2 separate regions of the Homo sapiens genome follow, and region 2 is linked to region 1. The links come from fine-mapping of genetic effects on gene expression. A gene starts in region 1. The other region holds a variant in brackets. All regions are shown on one strand. Distances are between the middles of the regions.

Region 1 (8,514 bases):
AAAAAATTAGCCAGGTATGGTGGCAGGCGCCGTAATCCCAGCTTCTCGGGAGGCTGAGGCAGGAGAACTGCTTGAACCCGGGAGGTGGAGGTTGCAGTGAGCGGAGATTGCGCCACAGCACTCCAGTCTGGGCAACAGTGCGAGACTCAGTCTCAAAAACAAAACAAAACAAAACAAAAATTTGAGATCCCAAAGTGTTTTCCCTGCCACGACTCAGGTAGCAGTGAGCTGAGGTGGGCATCACTAACATGTATGTCTCTCCTATGAGTCAAACGTCCATTTCTGGGTCACCATCTGTGTGCTCCTGCCTAACACTACCACTTTTGGGATTCCAAGATGCACCCCCCCCACCCCACCCAGGCAGGGGTCCCTATCTCTCCCCAGGCCCTAGGGTGGAGTTTCGCTCTTATCACCCAGGCTGGAGTGCAATGGCACAATCTCAGCTCACTGCACCCTTTCCCTCCTAGGTTCAAGTGATTCTCCTGCCTCAGCCTCCTAAGTAGCTGGGATTACAGGCGTCTGCCACCACGCCCGGCTAATTTTTGTATTTTTAGTAGAGACAGGGTTTCGCAATGTTGGCCAGGCTGGCCTTGAACTCCTGACCTCAGGTGATTCACCCGCCTCAGTCTCCCAAAGTGCTGGGGTTACAGGCGGGAGCCACCGCGCCCGGCCCATCCCTCATTATTTTTTGCGACTCAGAGCCATCCTATTACCCCTCTCAAACCCCAAGGAATGTTTGAGTGGGGTTGATATGGGTGTGAAAAGACACAGAATAATCTGTCTCCAGAGGAACTACAACTTCCATCAGGCACTACTTCAGCGGAACAGGAAAGGATGTGGGGGCGTGGCTACCACGCCCTAGTAGAGCGGGAAACTACAACTCCCAGGATAACGCGGGATTTCAGCAGGGCCAAAAGAGTGATTGAGCTCTGACTGGCGACCCGACCCGGCGGAAACCACCTCGACAGCCTCCAGAAAGGGGCGTGGCTGAAAATGTAGGGGCGTGGCCACGTGGGCATCAGGAAGAAGTAACCTGTTGAATCTATTTCTGCTCCCCACCCTTACTGCTTCCCATAAGGGGGAAGCCGCAGACTAATAAGCCTCTTCCAAAAAAGAGGTAAAGGGAGGTAGACAAGGGGCGGCAGCGGAGGCTGGCTACTGCATTCCGTAGGAGGAGCCAACAGTTACTTTTTACCTGCTGAGTCCGGTGAACCAGTTCATGGGGGCGGGGACCTGCCTATGAGAAAAGGGCCAGGATAGAAGAGGTATTTATTTGTTCATTTTGAGGACTAAATTTAGAACCCATCATCTACAGACCCATTTGTAGGTTGTGTCTGGGGCACTCGCTCGGCCTCAGGAAGAGGGAAGAACGGGGACGACTTTGTGGCAGCAAAGCCACCTCCCTTCCGTGTTTTCCGCAGCCCAAAGCGATAGAACCGCATGGCTTCCGCAGTCTGGGGGAGTGCCCCCTGGTGGGGCCCGCCGCCCCCGGCCCCAGCTCGGCCGCTCACGGACATCGACTTCTGCTCCGGGGCGCAGCTGCAGGAATTGACCCAGCTGATCCAGGAGCTGGGTGTGCAGGAGAGCTGGAGTGACGGGCCCAAGCCGGGAGCCGATCTCCTCCGGGCCAAGGACTTTGTCTTCTCTTTGCTTGGTAAGTAACCCTACTTGCCTTTGGGAACTCACAGCTCTCAGCCTCACCACGCCCCCGCCCCCGCCCCGGCTTTGGGCGACGCCCTCACGATCCGTTCCCTTTTTTTAGGTCTAGTTCACCGCCGGGACCCTCGCTTTCCTCCCCAGGCAGAGCTCTTGCTGCTTCGTGGTGGGATTCGCGAGGGCTCCCTGGATCTGGGGCATGCACCCCTGGGTCCCTACGCCCGGGGACCTCACTACGATGCCGGCTTCACACTCCTAGTGCCCATGTTTTCACTGGACGGCACTGAACTGCAACTGGACCTGGAATCCTGTTACGCACAGGTCTGCCTCCCAGAGATGGTGTGCGGAACCCCCATCCGGGAGATGTGGCAGGATTGCTTAGGACCCCCAGTCCCAGGAGCACGTGATTCGATCCACCGAACGGAGAGCGAAGAAAGTTCCAAGGACTGGCAAAGCTCTGTAGACCAGCCGCACAGCTACGTCACTGAGCACGAGGCGCCGGTGTCTTTGGAAAAATCGCCTAGTGACGTTTCAGCGTCCGAGTCGCCTCAGCATGACGTCGTCGACCTTGGCTCTACCGCACCTTTGAAAACAATGAGTAGTGACGTCACCAAGGCAGCCGTCGAAAGCCCAGTCCCAAAGCCGTCGGAGGCTCGGGAAGCGTGGCCCACATTATGTTCCGCCCAGGTGGCTGCCTGGTTCTTTGCTACGCTGGCGGCGGTCGCCGAGTCTCTGATCCCTGTCCCGGGTGCTCCGCGTCTGGTGCACGCAGCTCGCCACGCGGGTTTCACCACCGTCCTCCTGGCTACCCCTGAGCCCCCTCGCCGCCTCCTGCTCTTCGACCTGATCCCAGTGGTGTCCGTGGCGGGCTGGCCCGAGGGGGCTCGGAGCCACTCGTGGGCCGGTCCGCTGGCCTCTGAGTCGGCTTCCTTCTACCTGGTGCCCGGTGGCGGCACCGAGCGGCCGTGCGCCTCCGCCTGGCAGCTCTGTTTTGCCCGCCAGGAGCTGGCGCTCAAAGCGCGCATACCAGCGCCGCTGCTGCAGGCGCACGCGGCGGCCCAGGCGCTACTGCGCCCGCTGGTGGCCGGGACCCGGGCGGCGGCGCCCTACCTCCTGCGGACGCTGCTGTACTGGGCGTGCGAGCGGCTGCCTGCGCTCTACCTGGCGCGGCCAGAAAATGCGGGCGCCTGCTGCCTCGGGCTGCTAGACGAGCTCGGCCGAGTGCTCGAGGCCGGGACGTTGCCTCACTATTTTCTGAACGGCCGACAGCTCCGTACGGGGGACGACTCCGCTGCGCTGCTCGGAGAATTGGCCCGGCTCCGCGGGGACCCGGCCCGGGCCCTCCGTGCCGCGGTGGAGGAGGCCAAAGTGGCCCGCAAGGGGGGCGGTTTGGCGGGCGTGGGGGGCGGGGCCCATTAAAGACGCTGTTCCTACCAGTGGAAAGTGCCTCTGTGGGCGAGCGGGACGTGGGGGGCCCTGCTCGCCCCTCGCCAGGGGGACTGACTGTGTGCCCTGGGCCTGAAGCCCCCCTTCTGGAAGACCTCCCTGTTGGTTCCTCCTCTACGCCCACCCGCCTGCCCCCGCACAAGTTGCCCCATTCCAGCCTCGCTATTCTCCACATCTGTGGCCAGCACTCCGCCCAGGGGCAGCTTCCAGAAACCGTCTGTCCCCAGTTCTTTTGGTCATTTCTCTTAAGGGCCAATAGAAATGGGAGAAACATATTTGCTGACCAAACGCGAAAAGGAGTTATGGAGACCAGGGTCTGATCAATTTGGCTCACACAACGGCAGAGATATGAAGGAGGCCGGATTTCGCCCAAGGCTGGATCTCACCACCCCCCATCCTCCATCTCTCCAGTTCTTCCCCCACTTTACTCGTGCGGTTCTTTCTTCACTAACATCCCGGCCAGTAGGGTCTCTCTCCCTTCTCCCAGCGTCCGCCATTCCATCTCCCTTAGGCCCAACCTCTCCTTCCTACCCAGGGGTGCGTTCAGGAGGCCTTCCTGTCCCTCCTCCTCTGAAGGCTGAGACGTGCGGCCTTGCCTCGGCTTTGCCTGCTTGTAAGACACAGTCCGCACTCTCTACCTCCAAGGAACCCCGGGGTTCCTCCTGCCCGGCTTCACCCTCCTATTTCCCAGCGTCTCCGCCCCCTGCCCCGCCCCCGGGCCGGCTCTCCGAGGAGGGGGAACTGCTGTCGCCGCCGCCGCCGCCGCCTCAGCTTCCCACAGCCGCTGCCGCTGCCGCCGCTCTGCCTGGTCCAGCCACCGGCCCAGTGCTCTGACTTCGCCGGACCGGGGAGCTCTGCAGAGACACCCTCACTCCTTCCCGAGGGTCCGGGACGCCTAGCCGGGCGTGGGGGGAAGCTCCGTTTGCGGGGGACAGGGAGGGAGGAGCCTGGAGCCGAAGCCAGCGCCACCCGTCGCCGGATCAACAGGACAGGACAGGTTGAGGGGCGTCGGGAAAAGGAAGAGGGGGTGCTATAGGCAATCCCGGGGAGGACGAGGAAGCCCTGTAGCAGGAAGCTGTGATCCGCTCTGACTTGTAGGGGGCCTGTTCACATCTGGGGACTGGTGACAACGTGGGTGCACTCCTCTCTTGGGGGGCTGGTTAGATTGGAGGGCGTGGGATCTAAACAGCACCAGCTGTCCCCAAGAAAATTTAAGGGGCAGCCAGGGGAGAAAAAAACAAAAACAAAAACAAACACGGATGCTCCTCATTTTGAGGTGGCGGAAGGCCCTCCAGTCAACTACCTGGTGTATCCACTAGGAAGGGTGGATTTGGAGGTGACTTCAAAAGGAGCGGAGGGTGTGAAGGTGAAGAAAGGGTCTTGGCCGCTAGAATTCTATGCTACTAGACATGGGGGGGACTTGGTGAAAAAGGTATTATCCAGCCAGAGGGTCTGGGAGCCCTGTCTTACTGAACCTGGGCAACCTGGATATTCTGAGACATATTTTGGGGGGATTTCAGTGAAAAAAGTGGGGGATCCCCTCCATTTAGAGTGTAGCAAAGGAAAAAACACCAAGGTTGGGTTCCTTCCTGACATTGGCAGTGCCCCAGTAGGGGTGGGATGAGCGAATATTCCCAAAGCTAAAGTCCCACACCCTGTAGATTACAAGAGTGGATTTGGCAGGAGTGTGCCCCAAAATACAGTGGAAAGGTGCCTGAAGATATTTAAACCACGTCTTGGAAATTTAGTGGGTCTTGGCTTTGGGATAGGTGAAGTGAGGACAGACACTGGAGAGGAGGGAAAGGGGACGTTTTCAATAGGAGGCAAAACTCGAGGGTGGGATCCACTGAGGAGTACATAGGCTGCTGGATCTGGTGGAGCCAGCACTGGGCCCACGGGTGGTAACTGGCTGCTGTGGAGGGGGGTACGTGAGGGGGGGGGTCTGGGGCTTATCCTCAGGTCCTGTGGGTGGGGCAGCGAGTCGGGGCCTGAGCGTCAAGAGCATGCCCTAGTGAGCGGGCTCCTCTGGGGGAGCCCAGCGCGCTCCGGGCGCCTGCCGGTTTGGGGGTGTCTCCTCCCGGGGCGCTATGGCGGCGCTGGCCAGTAGCCTGATCCGGCAGAAGCGGGAGGTCCGCGAGCCCGGGGGCAGCCGGCCGGTGTCGGCGCAGCGGCGCGTGTGTCCCCGCGGCACCAAGTCCCTTTGCCAGAAGCAGCTCCTCATCCTGCTGTCCAAGGTGCGACTGTGCGGGGGGCGGCCCGCGCGGCCGGACCGCGGCCCGGGTGAGTGCGGCTGGGGCGGGGTCTCCCGGCCAGAGGTTTCTCTGCCTGGGAGATTGAGGCCAGGGACTCTGAAGAATAGGGCCCGGCTGAGGGGCTCCCCGAAAGTGGAAGGGGGTGGGCCAGGACGACAAAGTCCCTGCCAGACTGTGCCTCAGTTTCCCTTCTCTTTTGTCCATAACCCGGAGTCTCCTTATTTTCGAGGTCAAGGGGAAGGCTTGAGGGGCTGCCTGGCGCCCCGAAAGCCTCGTAGTTCCTGCTCGTCCCCCCTTCCCAACACAGCAGTCCCCACCCCCATCGTCCTCCGCCTACGTGCCGGTTCTCGCGATTCTTTCAATCTGGAGCGGAGGGGCCCGGGGGTTTCCAGATGCCTGGGTCACCCCAAGGATTTCTGCAGCTCCAGCCGCACGCCCCCCCCCAGCCCCCGCCTGCCCCGGTTCTCCCGCTCCTCCACGCCTGGGCTCGGTTCCTCCTGGTCGAGCTCTGCTGGCTCCGAGCCAATCTCCCCAGCTCTCCCTCGGGTGTCCTTGCAGCTACCTCGCCAGCCAGCCCTCTATGCGCCCTCCTCCTGTGACCTGCGCTTCAAGAACGGAGCTGGGCACCCCTCCCATAACCCCCGCGCCACTCCGAAATCGGGTCCCGTAGGCTCAGGGGACCCTACGCTGGCAGGAACTCAGACACAGTTCACGGCTAGAGATGGGCGCCGACTCGGGGGTCGTACCACCTACAAGGGGGGACAGGGAAGTCGGCAGAGAGCAAGCGATGGGGGAGGAGAGTTGTGAGAGTTAGAATTGGTCCCCGTCCATGTACGACAGTCAGGGAGTCCCTCTGGCCCTGCTCCCGCCCGCTCCCAGCTCCCCTAAGGGTAGCCACCTCGCGCCCTCCTCCCCGCGCCACCGGCTGCCCATAGTGGTACAATCCGCAGCCCACCCTCTGAGTAGGACCGGGCCCCCACGTGACTCAGCCTGCCTCTCCATCTCCTCAGCTCCCACCCCCCATATCCTTGGTAAGGTCCCCCTTACCCCAGGCGAGTTACCTGGCCGAAGGGGAGAGGCTGAGCCTCAGGGAGAACTGGGCCCCCGGGAGCCAGCGGACTGACAGACAGACAGACAGACAGACAGATGGGTCAGTGTCAGACAGGCCGGCGCTGGGCCAAGGCAAGGCTCTCGCCAAGCTAGCGGCAGCCGCAGCAGGTGCTGAGTCAGCGTCAGGCCCAGTCCCACCCCCACTCCTGAGGGAGAGCCCCTACCCTGTGGTCAATTTGCTGCTGCCAAGATCCCCCACCTTCGCAAACACGCTGCCCCTTCAGTACCCCTGCTGGTCTCCCTCTGTCCCTGCCTTTTGATATATCTCTCCCCTCCCTCCTCCCCCACTCCTTCCCCCTTCTGGTTGAGCTGTAGGGTAGGAATTAAGCCATTTAAATAAATTTCAATAAATTACACTGAAAGCTCCTGGTTATAGGAAACAGAAGGGACCCACACCAGCTTTCCCAGGAGTGAAAGAGAGGTGGGAGAGAGCGTGCTTGGAGGATAAGAGAGCTGGGGCCCTGGGACCCTCTTCCTTCCTTTCATTCTCCTTTCTTCCCTCTAATCCTGCCAAGTGTAGGAATGTTTCTGGGAACGGAGATGTCATTTTCAAAGATGAATGTCTCTCTCTCCAGAGCCTCAGCTCAAAGGCATCGTCACCAAACTGTTCTGCCGCCAGGGTTTCTACCTCCAGGCGAATCCCGACGGAAGCATCCAGGGCACCCCAGAGGATACCAGCTCCTTCAGTGAGAGGGGAAGCTGGCTGCAGGGTGGGAAGGGGGAGAATGGGGACAGGAGATGACAATCCTATTCCCTCTTCAGCTTCTGTTGCCATTGATCCGTCTTCCTGACCTCTAAGGGAAAAAGTGGAGCTGGGATGAGGGGAGCTCAGGTGAGGGTCAGAGGCCTGGGTATTGATGCTCCCTCTCTCCACCTGCAGCCCACTTCAACCTGATCCCTGTGGGCCTCCGTGTGGTCACCATCCAGAGCGCCAAGCTGGGTCACTACATGGCCATGAATGCTGAGGGACTGCTCTACAGTTCGGTGAGACAATGAGGCTGAGTGGCCGGGAAATACTGGGGACTCCCCTTCCTCAATTTGTCCCTTGAGGGAATGACAACCTTCCTCAACTACAGACATTTTGCCCGGGACTCCTCCCTCCAGCTTTGCTGATGGCCTGTCATCGCTGCCCATTCCAGACCAGCTCCTCTAGGGTCTCTCCAGTCCCCACTCCTTGCACACCCCCAAAACAGCCCCAGGTTCTTTGAATGTCCAACTCTTTCTGCCTTTTAGGGCCCCTACTTCTTATCCCACCTCCTCCAGATTTTGTCATTACTCACTTCCCTAGAGTCATCCAGGATAGGGGATAGTGAGAGACTGGGAGTACAGTGGAGAGAAGGAATCTTATTGCAAGACCCCTAAAAGTCTAGTTCTTTTTTTTTTTTTTAAATAGTGACAGGGTCTTGCTATGTTGGCCAGGCTGGTCTGGAACTCCTGACCTCAGGTGATCCACCCGCCTCGGCCTCCCAAAGTGTTGGGATTATAGGCATGAGCCACTGTGCTTGGCCCAGAGCCTAGTTCTTAGCCCTCAGCCCTCTTCCTTGTCCTCCCTTTGCTCCCAGGTCCTACATGGACTCAGAAGTTGTCCTCCCCCTCCCCCAAAAAGGATTTGTGCTTTCCATGAGCTCCTTTCTGCCCAGTGATGTGTCTTTTTATCTCTCTGTCTTTGTGCGCCTTTCTGGGTCTTTGTCTCCTTAGCCGCATTTCACAGCTGAGTGTCGCTTTAAGGAGTGTGTCTTTGAGAATTACTACGTCCTGTACGCCTCTGCTCTCTACCGCCAGCGTCGTTCTGGCCGGGCCTGGTACCTCGGCCTGGACAAGGAGGGCCAGGTCATGAAGGGAAACCGAGTTAAGAAGACCAAGGCAGCTGCCCACTTTCTGCCCAAGCTCCTGGAGGGTGGGTATAGACTCAAGAAAATGTGGGCCACAGGAGAGGGTATTGACCTTGATATGGACATTTAGGGGCAGACAGCTCAGGCTACAAGTGATAAGAGGACCCTTTGTGACAGATCAAGCCAGGAAGGCTTTGCCCTTTGGGGGTTTGGGTGCG
Region 2 (8,000 bases), 330 kb after region 1:
ACAGAGTCTGGCTCTGTCACCCAGGCTGGAGTGCAGTGGCACGATCTTGGCCTACTGCAACCTCTGCCTCCCAGGCTCAAGTGATTCTCCTACTTCAGCCTCCCAAGTAGCTGGGAACACAGGCACACGCCACCACGCCTTGCTGATTTTTGTATTTTTTGTAGGGATGGGGGTCTCATTTTGTTGCCCAGGCTGGTCTTAAACTCCTGAACTCAAGCAATCTGCTGACCTCGGCCTCCCAAAGTGCTGGGATTACAGGTGTGAGCCACCGCACCCAGCTGGATTTACTTACTGTATTTACTTTTTTTTTTTTTTTTTTTTTTGGTTTTGGCCTCATTCTCAGATATACAGCTTTTGGATTTTTTTTTTTTTTTTTTTTGAGACAGGGCCTCCATCCATTACCCAGGCTGGAGTGCAGTGGTGCAATCATGGCTCACTGCAGCCTCAACTTCCTGGGCTCAAGCGATCCTCCCACCTCAGCCTCCTGAGTAGCTGGGACTACAGGCACCTCAAGTGATCCTCCCACCTTGGCCTCCCAAAGTGCTGGGATCACAGGCGTGAGCCACCACACCCGGCCAGGGTTTCTTTTAGGCCTGGCAAACTCACACCTTGATTTTTTTAGCCCTTGTCACATGTGCAAAACTCGTCCCCAGACTCTGGTCTGGAGGATCAGAAAAGAGTCCTTAAAAACTTTCATGAGAGGGCAGACCTCCTGCTCCTGGTCATCCTCCACGCATGAGAGGGCAGACCTCCTGCTCCTGGTCATCCTCCACTCATGAGAGGGCAGACCTCCTGCTCCTGGTCATCCTCCACTCATGAGAGGGCAGACCTCCTGCTCCTGGTCATCCTCCACGCATGAGAGGGCAGACCTCCTGCTCCTGGTCATCCTCCACTCTCTGACTCCCCCAGGTCCTGGAGATGCTGGACAGTCTCAACGGGGAGTGGGTTGTCTTCCAACAAACTCTGCTGGACAGTAAGCAAATGCTGAAGAAACACAAGGAGAAATTCAAGACAGGCCTGATCCACTCGGCAGATGACTTCAAGAAGAAAGCACATACACTTCTGGAAGATTTCGAATTCAAAGGTACTCCTTGATCCACCTCTCCCGCTTCTTTAGCCTTTGTTTAGAGACCCCGCCTTCCAAGCCCAGGTCCTGGGAAGGCGAGAACTGGGAGGGGAGGAGGAGGGTCGGTGCTGGGGTGGGGGAAGAGCCTCCACTCAGGAGCAAAGGAGGAGGACACTCAGTGGCTCTCGTTTTGGGTAGACAGCGGCGCAGCTCACAGCATTTCTACTTTTCTTTTTTCTTTTTTTTTTTGAGATGGAATCTCGCTCTGTCACCAGGCTGGAGTGCAGTGGCTCGATCTCAGCTCACTGCAACCTCCGCCTCCCAGGTTCAAACGATTCTCCTGCCTCAGCCTCCCCGAGTAGCTGGGACTACAGGCACATGCCACCACACCCGGCTAATTTTTGTATTTTTAGTACAGACAGGGTTTTACCATGTTGGCGAGGATGGTCTTGATCTCTTGACCTTGTGATCTGCCTGCCTCGGCCTCCCAAAGTACTGGAATTACAGGTGTGAGCCACCGCGCCCGGCCCGCATTTCTACTTTTCTTATCCCGACTTCCATATTCCATCTGTTCCTGACTCTCAAGCCACATTTAGGAGTTTTTGCTAAGATTAACCGTTATTCTTTCAACGCGTTCCCTCTTACTCTCCTTCCCTTCCCTCTCTCACGTGAGGAGAGAGGTGAGATTTGCCCACAAAGAGATAGGAGAGCCATGGCTGTCCTTGCCAGACGTGAGCGGGAAGCTGAGCTTCATCCTGAATCCTCCACAGGCCATTTCACCAGCAACGTGGGATACATGTCTGCCTTAGACCAGATTACACAAGTGCGGGCCATGCTGATGGCCATGCGGGAAGAGGAAAATAGTCTCCGAGCCAACCTGGGCATCTTCAAGATCGAGCAGCCACCCTCCAAGGACCTTCAGAACCTGGAGAAGGTGGTGTGCTGAGCAAGGACCCTGTGGTCACTGTCGATAAGGGGCAGGGACAGGAGAATGGGTCCTTAGCGCCCACAAAGGCAGTGGGAAGGGAGAGGAGCTCACAAGGAGCTTTTGTTTGTTTCAGTTGAGGTAAAATTCATACAACAAAATTAATCCTTTTTTTTTTTTTTTTTTTTTTTTTGAGATAGAGTCTTGCTCTCTCACCCAGGCTGGAGTGCAGTGGCACAATCTCGGCTCACTATAACCTCTGCCTCCCGGGTTCAAGCGATTCTCATGCCTCACACTCCCGAGTAGCTGGGATTACAAGCATCCACCACTATGCATGGCTAATTTTTATATTTTTAGTATAGAGATGGGGTTTCACCATATTGTCCAGACTGGTCTCGAACTCCTGACCTCAGGTGATCCACCTGGCTCGACCTCCCAAAGTGCTAGGATTACAGGTGTGAGCCACCACGCCCTGCCAAAATTAACCATTTTGAAGTAAACAATTCGTGACGTTTAGTAATTCATACCACATCTATCTAATTCCCAAACATTTTTATTACCCTAAAGGAAACTCTGCCCATTAGCAGTCACGTGCATCCCCCGTCCCCCGCCCCAGTCCCCCGTCCCCCGCCCCAGTCTGTTATGAGCCTGTTTTCCATGTGTATGATTCCCCTATTCTGGACACTTCATACAAATGGAACCATTTGTATGATAATACGTGGCCTTTTTAATCTGGCTTCTTTCGCTTAGCATAATGTCTTCAAGGTTCATCCATGGTGTGGCATGGATCAGTACTTTTTTAAATGGCTGAATATTCATATTTGAATATCGCATGAGTTTACCACATTTTGTTTACCATTCACCAGTTGATGGACATTTGGGTTGTTTCCACCTTTTAGCTAAAGGGAGTAGTGCTGCCATGAACACGCGTGTACTTGTATTTGTCTGAACACCTGTTCCCTATTCTTGTGAGTGTAAGCCTAGGGGTGGAATTGCTAGATCATATGGAAACTCTATGTTTAACTTTTTGAGGAGCTGCCAAGCCATTTTCCACAGCAGCTGCACCGTTTCACATTCCCACTAGCAGTGTACAAGTCTCCCTATTTCTCCATATCTCCGTGCCAACACTTATTTACCTTTTTTTTTTTTTTTTTGGTTCTAGCCATCCTAGCGGGTGTGAAGTGGCATCCCACTGAGGTTTTGATTTGCATTTCCCTAATGACTCATGACATTGAGGATTTTTTCATGTGCTTGTTCCTTGATAAGCTCTTAAGGCAACAGAGTGGAGAAAAATATGTGGACTGAGGAGGCCGCTGTATTATCTAGAGGGGAAGCTTCACAGAGCGAGAGCAGCGAAGGGCCTGGGCGTCCGTCAGGGAGGAAGAGGGCAGGTGCCACTTCATGCAACGCGCCTTTCTGCCCTGTAGGAGCTCGATGCCCTCCAGCAAATCTGGGAGATCGCACGAGACTGGGAGGAGAACTGGAATGAGTGGAAGACTGGCCGGTTCCTGATCCTGCAGACGGAAACCATGGAGACCACGGCCCACGGGCTGTTTCGTCGCCTCACAAAATTAGCCAAAGAGTATAAGGTGGGGAGAAACGGCGGGGAGGCGGAAGAGAAGCTGGTGGAGGATCTGGGTCTGTTCCCAGGGAGGTCGTCGGGTCTTCTCATGCCCCCAACTTTTGCTCAGGACCGAAACTGGGAAATTATTGAAACCACTCGCTCAAAAATAGAGCAGTTCAAGAGGACCATGCCTCTCATCTCAGACCTGCGGAACCCTGCCCTTAGAGAGAGGTGAGGCTTCTCCTCTGCTCCGGGGTGTCCACTCTGCCCCGCTGGCCTGCGCCACCACTTGGTCCCTCCCATTCTCCTCTCCGCAGTGTTCACAGCCCTCTCTTCCCCTCTGTCCACAAATGTATGTCTTTTTCTCTTTCCTCTTTTTAACATTTAATTTTGATGGACGCATGAAAATTGCATACACTTTGGTGTACAGCATAATGTTTTGAAATATGTACACATTGTAGAATGGCTAAATTGAGCTAATTATCATATGCATTACCTCACATACCTATTTTTTGTAGTGAGAGTACTGAAAAGCTACTCTCAGTGATTTTCAAGTATACAATAGATTGTTATTAACCATTGTTGCCGTGATGTACAGGAGATCATCCCTCTTGTCTAACTGAAATTTTGTGTCCTTTGACCAACACCTCCCGAACTTTCCACCTACCACCCCCAGCCCCTGGTAACCAGCACTCGACTCTGCTTCTGTGAGTTCAACCTGTTCAGACTTTACATATGACATATGAGTGCGATCATGCGGTGTTTGTCTTTCTTCGCCTGGCTTATTTCGCTTAGCATAATGTCCTCCAGGTTCTTCCATGTTGTTGCAAATGACAGGATTTTCTTCTTTCCTGAGGCTGAAGAGTATTTCTTTGTATATATACACCACATTTTCATCCTCCATTCATCGCTTGATGGACACTTAGGGTGATTCCACATCTTAGCTATTGCAAATAGTGCTCAGCGAACATGTGGCGCAGACACCAAGCCTGCCACTGTCCTCTGCT[T/G]CTTGCACTGTCTCGGGTCATCCAGCCTTGCTGGCTTCTTGTTCTCTGACCCCTGCCCTGGGGCCTCCCTCTCTCTGAAAGGGAGTTGTCTATCATGACTAAGTCTTATGTCTTTTTTTTTCCTTTTTTTGTGGGGGAGACAAAGTCTCACTCTGTTGCCCTGGCTGGGGTGCAGTGCTGTGATCTCGGCTCACTGTAACCTTCACCTCGCGGGTTCAAGCAATTCTTGTGCCTCAGCCTCCCAAGTAGCTGGGATTACAGGCACCTGCCACCATGCTCTGCTAATTTTTGTATTTTTAGTAGAGATGGGGTTTTGCCATGTTGCCCAAGATGGTCTTGAACTCCTGGCCTCAAGTGATCCGCTCGCCTTGGCCTCCCAAAGTGCTGGGATTACAGGCATGAGCCACCGTGCCCGTCCCGCCTTATGTCTTTTGTTATACAAAAGATTTTATTTTGAGGTAGCCAGAAGTATAACTTTCTTTCTGTATGGTTTTTGCCTTTGTGCCTTGTTTAGGAAGACCTTTCCTATCCCAAAGTTACAAATACATCCTCTTCATTCTTTCCTCTAATGCTTTGTGTTTCTCAGGTTTAACTCTTTTAATTCATCTGGAATTTATTATATGGCAGAGGATGTATCTCAAACCATTGGGGATAGATTTATAAAAATAAAGTAATTTTTATAAATGGTGTTTCAATCATGATCTATCCATTTAAGAGAAAATAATTTTACTTCTTTGTCTTTCTTCCAGTATAACGTTTTTGGCAATGCCAAACCATTAAGTGTTATACGGTTATGTATAACCTAACCACTTTATTTGCTTACATTATTTAACCTCTCTAAGCCTCAGTTTTCTCATCTGTAAATGGAATAATAATAATTCCTAATTTATAGAGTAGCCGTGAGAATGATATGAGATGTTTCATGTAAGGCCTTTACTCAGTACAGTTCTAGAGTAAACCTGCGGTGATTCATTGTGTGTTTTGTGGGCACACCTGCCTTAACTTCCTCTCCAGAGAATCCACTCCTGGAGGGTTTCACCTCAATCTTCGTATTCCCCTGGTGCCTAAGATTGCATCTTCGAGCCTGTTTAGCAAAATGAGTTGAATCATGAATTGGTAACTATGCAGAATCATAGTGTCCCAGTGGGAGACAGCAATGGAGTGATGGTAACTCTCCTGACCTCACACCCTCCTGTTCCTGGCTGCAGGCACTGGGACCAGGTCCGGGATGAGATCCAGCGGGAGTTTGATCAGGAATCTGAAAGCTTCACCTTGGAGCAGATTGTGGAGCTTGGGATGGATCAGCATGTGGAGAAAATTGGGGAGATCTCTGCTTCAGCAACTAAAGAGCTGGCTATAGAAGTGGTACGACAGTCCCCTCCCATGCTCCCACACCTCCTGCGCCTCCTGGAGCACAGGCTCCAGCTGTTCATCATCTGATGGCGCCTCTCAGCTCCTGTTCCCCTTAGTGAAGAGATACCTGACTGCTGTGTCCCCCAATTTCTCTCCACAGGCTTTACAAAACATTGCCAAGACCTGGGATGTGACTCAGCTCGACATAGTACCCTACAAGGATAAGGGCCATCATCGGCTCAGGTCAGGGGAGCTGGGGCTCTAGGAGAATGGAGGGCTGTGTGACCCAGGCTGCAGAGTGGGACCAAGGTTGGGCAGGTGGGGATGAACTATGATTTTGACCCCTTGTGTCTCAGAGGTACAGAAGAAGTATTCCAGGCACTGGAAGATAACCAGGTAGCTCTGTCTACCATGAAGGCATCACGCTTTGTCAAGGCCTTTGAGAAGGATGTGGACCACTGGGAACGCTGCCTCTCCCTCATTTTGGAGGTTATTGAGATGATTCTCACAGTGCAGCGTCAGTGGATGTACTTAGAGGTCAGGACTCAGCGCCTGAGCTCTTCCTGCTTCCTGCTCTTACTCCTTCTTTTTCTTAAGACCTAGATTTTGCCCTGTTATCAGCCTCATTCTCCTACCTTTAAAGTCACTCTTCATCTAGGACCCAGCTGTCTGATTCTTAGTTATTACCTCTCACCTTAGATTCCCTCCGTAACAAGTTTTTGTTCTTCTCAGATTTTTCTTCCATTTTTCTTCTTAGACCCAGGTAGCTGGCCCCCTACCTCCAGCTTTCCTTGTAGAACTTGGGCATCTTGGCCTTTGACTTCTAGCACTCTGTATCTTCTACCCAACTGTCACCCACAATCTGGGAACAGGGAGCAGAGGGTGGAGAGTGTGTAAGAAGTGGCCTCTCACCCCAACTTTTGGCCCCCTCAGAATATCTTCCTAGGAGAAGACATCCGCAAGCAGCTGCCCAATGAATCGACCTTATTTGACCAGGTCAACAGCAACTGGAAAGCCATCATGGACAGGATGAACAAGGACAACAATGCTCTCCGGAGCACCCATCACCCAGGTCAGAGCTCCAGGGCTCCTGCCCTGACACAGCCTCGGCAGGCACTCTGCTTGGTCATGGTTGCGTGCTTCATTTATTAAAAAGACTGATGCCCCCAGCTCTCCTAACATTTCCCATCTCCATCACCTCTTCTAAGCATTAGATCATAATTCTGTAAATTAAACTCAACAAATATTTGAGTGGAGTATAATAATGTAGTGGTTAAGAGCATGGGATATGGAATCAGTCAGATGAGTTTATTTATTTATTAAAAAAAATTTTTTTTTTGAGACAGAGTTTTGCACATTGCCCAGGCTGGAGTGCAGTGGTGCGATCTCGGCTCACTGCAATCTCTGCCTCCCGGGTTCAAATGATTCTCCTGCTTCAGCCTCCCAAGTAGCTGGGAATACAAGCGTGTGCCACTACCTCTGGCTAATTTTTTTATTTTTAGTAGAGATGGCGTTTCACCAAGTTGGCCAGGCTGCCTTGAACTCTTGACCTCAGGTGATTCACCTCCCTCAGCCTCCCAAAGTTCTGGGATTACAGGTGTGGGACACTGAGCCCAGCCTACGTTGACTTTCTTTTAGCAGATTAACTAGCCTTCAGCCATGGGATGGGGTAGGGTATGGGGAAGAAAGGGATGAACACACGGCAAGATGAACACATAGTGAGGCCTGGTCGACTGGGGGAGACTGGGGTAGACAATCAGGGAGTCAGGTTTGACAGCGGGCACCTAGAATGGGCATCCTGTGCAGAAGAATTCTGGTGGGGGTGCAGAGGACCTCTTTATTTTACCTAGGGCTAGTCTTAACAGTGCTTCATTTTCCCAAGAGCCTTCAGTATACACATCAATAAAAATAATTTTAATTATTCTGATAAAAGATAAACATGAAAAGTTATGGTATGCAAAGTTGAATGACAACAACTGATACTATTTGAAATAATTGACAGAATTATATTCCGTAACAATTTATAAGCAAAGCCAAAAAAACAATGATCCCTTTGTTGAATGCACAGAACAAATCCATCTTGTC

What was found.
Region 2: its variant is fine-mapped to the expression of FGF11 in whole blood (TOPMed, PIP 0.92).

What each region holds. Positions count from the first base shown.
Region 1 is chr17:7,434,432-7,442,945 of GRCh38, forward strand. FGF11 (fibroblast growth factor 11) reads left to right here and starts at 5,081. Exons shown (of 5, transcript NM_004112.4): 1 at 5,081-5,382; 2 at 7,040-7,150; 3 at 7,345-7,448; 4 at 8,163-8,361. The coding sequence starts at 5,190. It overlaps TMEM102 (transmembrane protein 102), which reads left to right and starts at 1,004. Exons shown (of 3, transcript NM_178518.3): 1 at 1,004-1,265; 2 at 1,422-1,654; 3 at 1,763-3,248. The coding sequence starts at 1,441. The coding sequence ends at 3,075. RefSeq lists enhancers at 688-857, 1,909-2,818, 3,615-3,714, 3,729-4,637, 4,891-5,424 and silencers at 2,554-2,833, 3,805-3,904, 5,183-5,282, 6,193-6,302.
Region 2 is chr17:7,764,482-7,772,481 of GRCh38, forward strand. DNAH2 (dynein axonemal heavy chain 2) reads left to right here. Exons shown (of 86, transcript NM_020877.5): 21 at 910-1,084; 22 at 1,837-2,000; 23 at 3,419-3,580; 24 at 3,683-3,786; 25 at 5,771-5,927; 26 at 6,076-6,158; 27 at 6,272-6,452; 28 at 6,849-6,987. Among named protein-coding and RNA genes, the nearest start is that of DNAH2, 51 kb to the left of the region's middle. The variant T/G (reference allele first, on the strand shown) is at 4,563.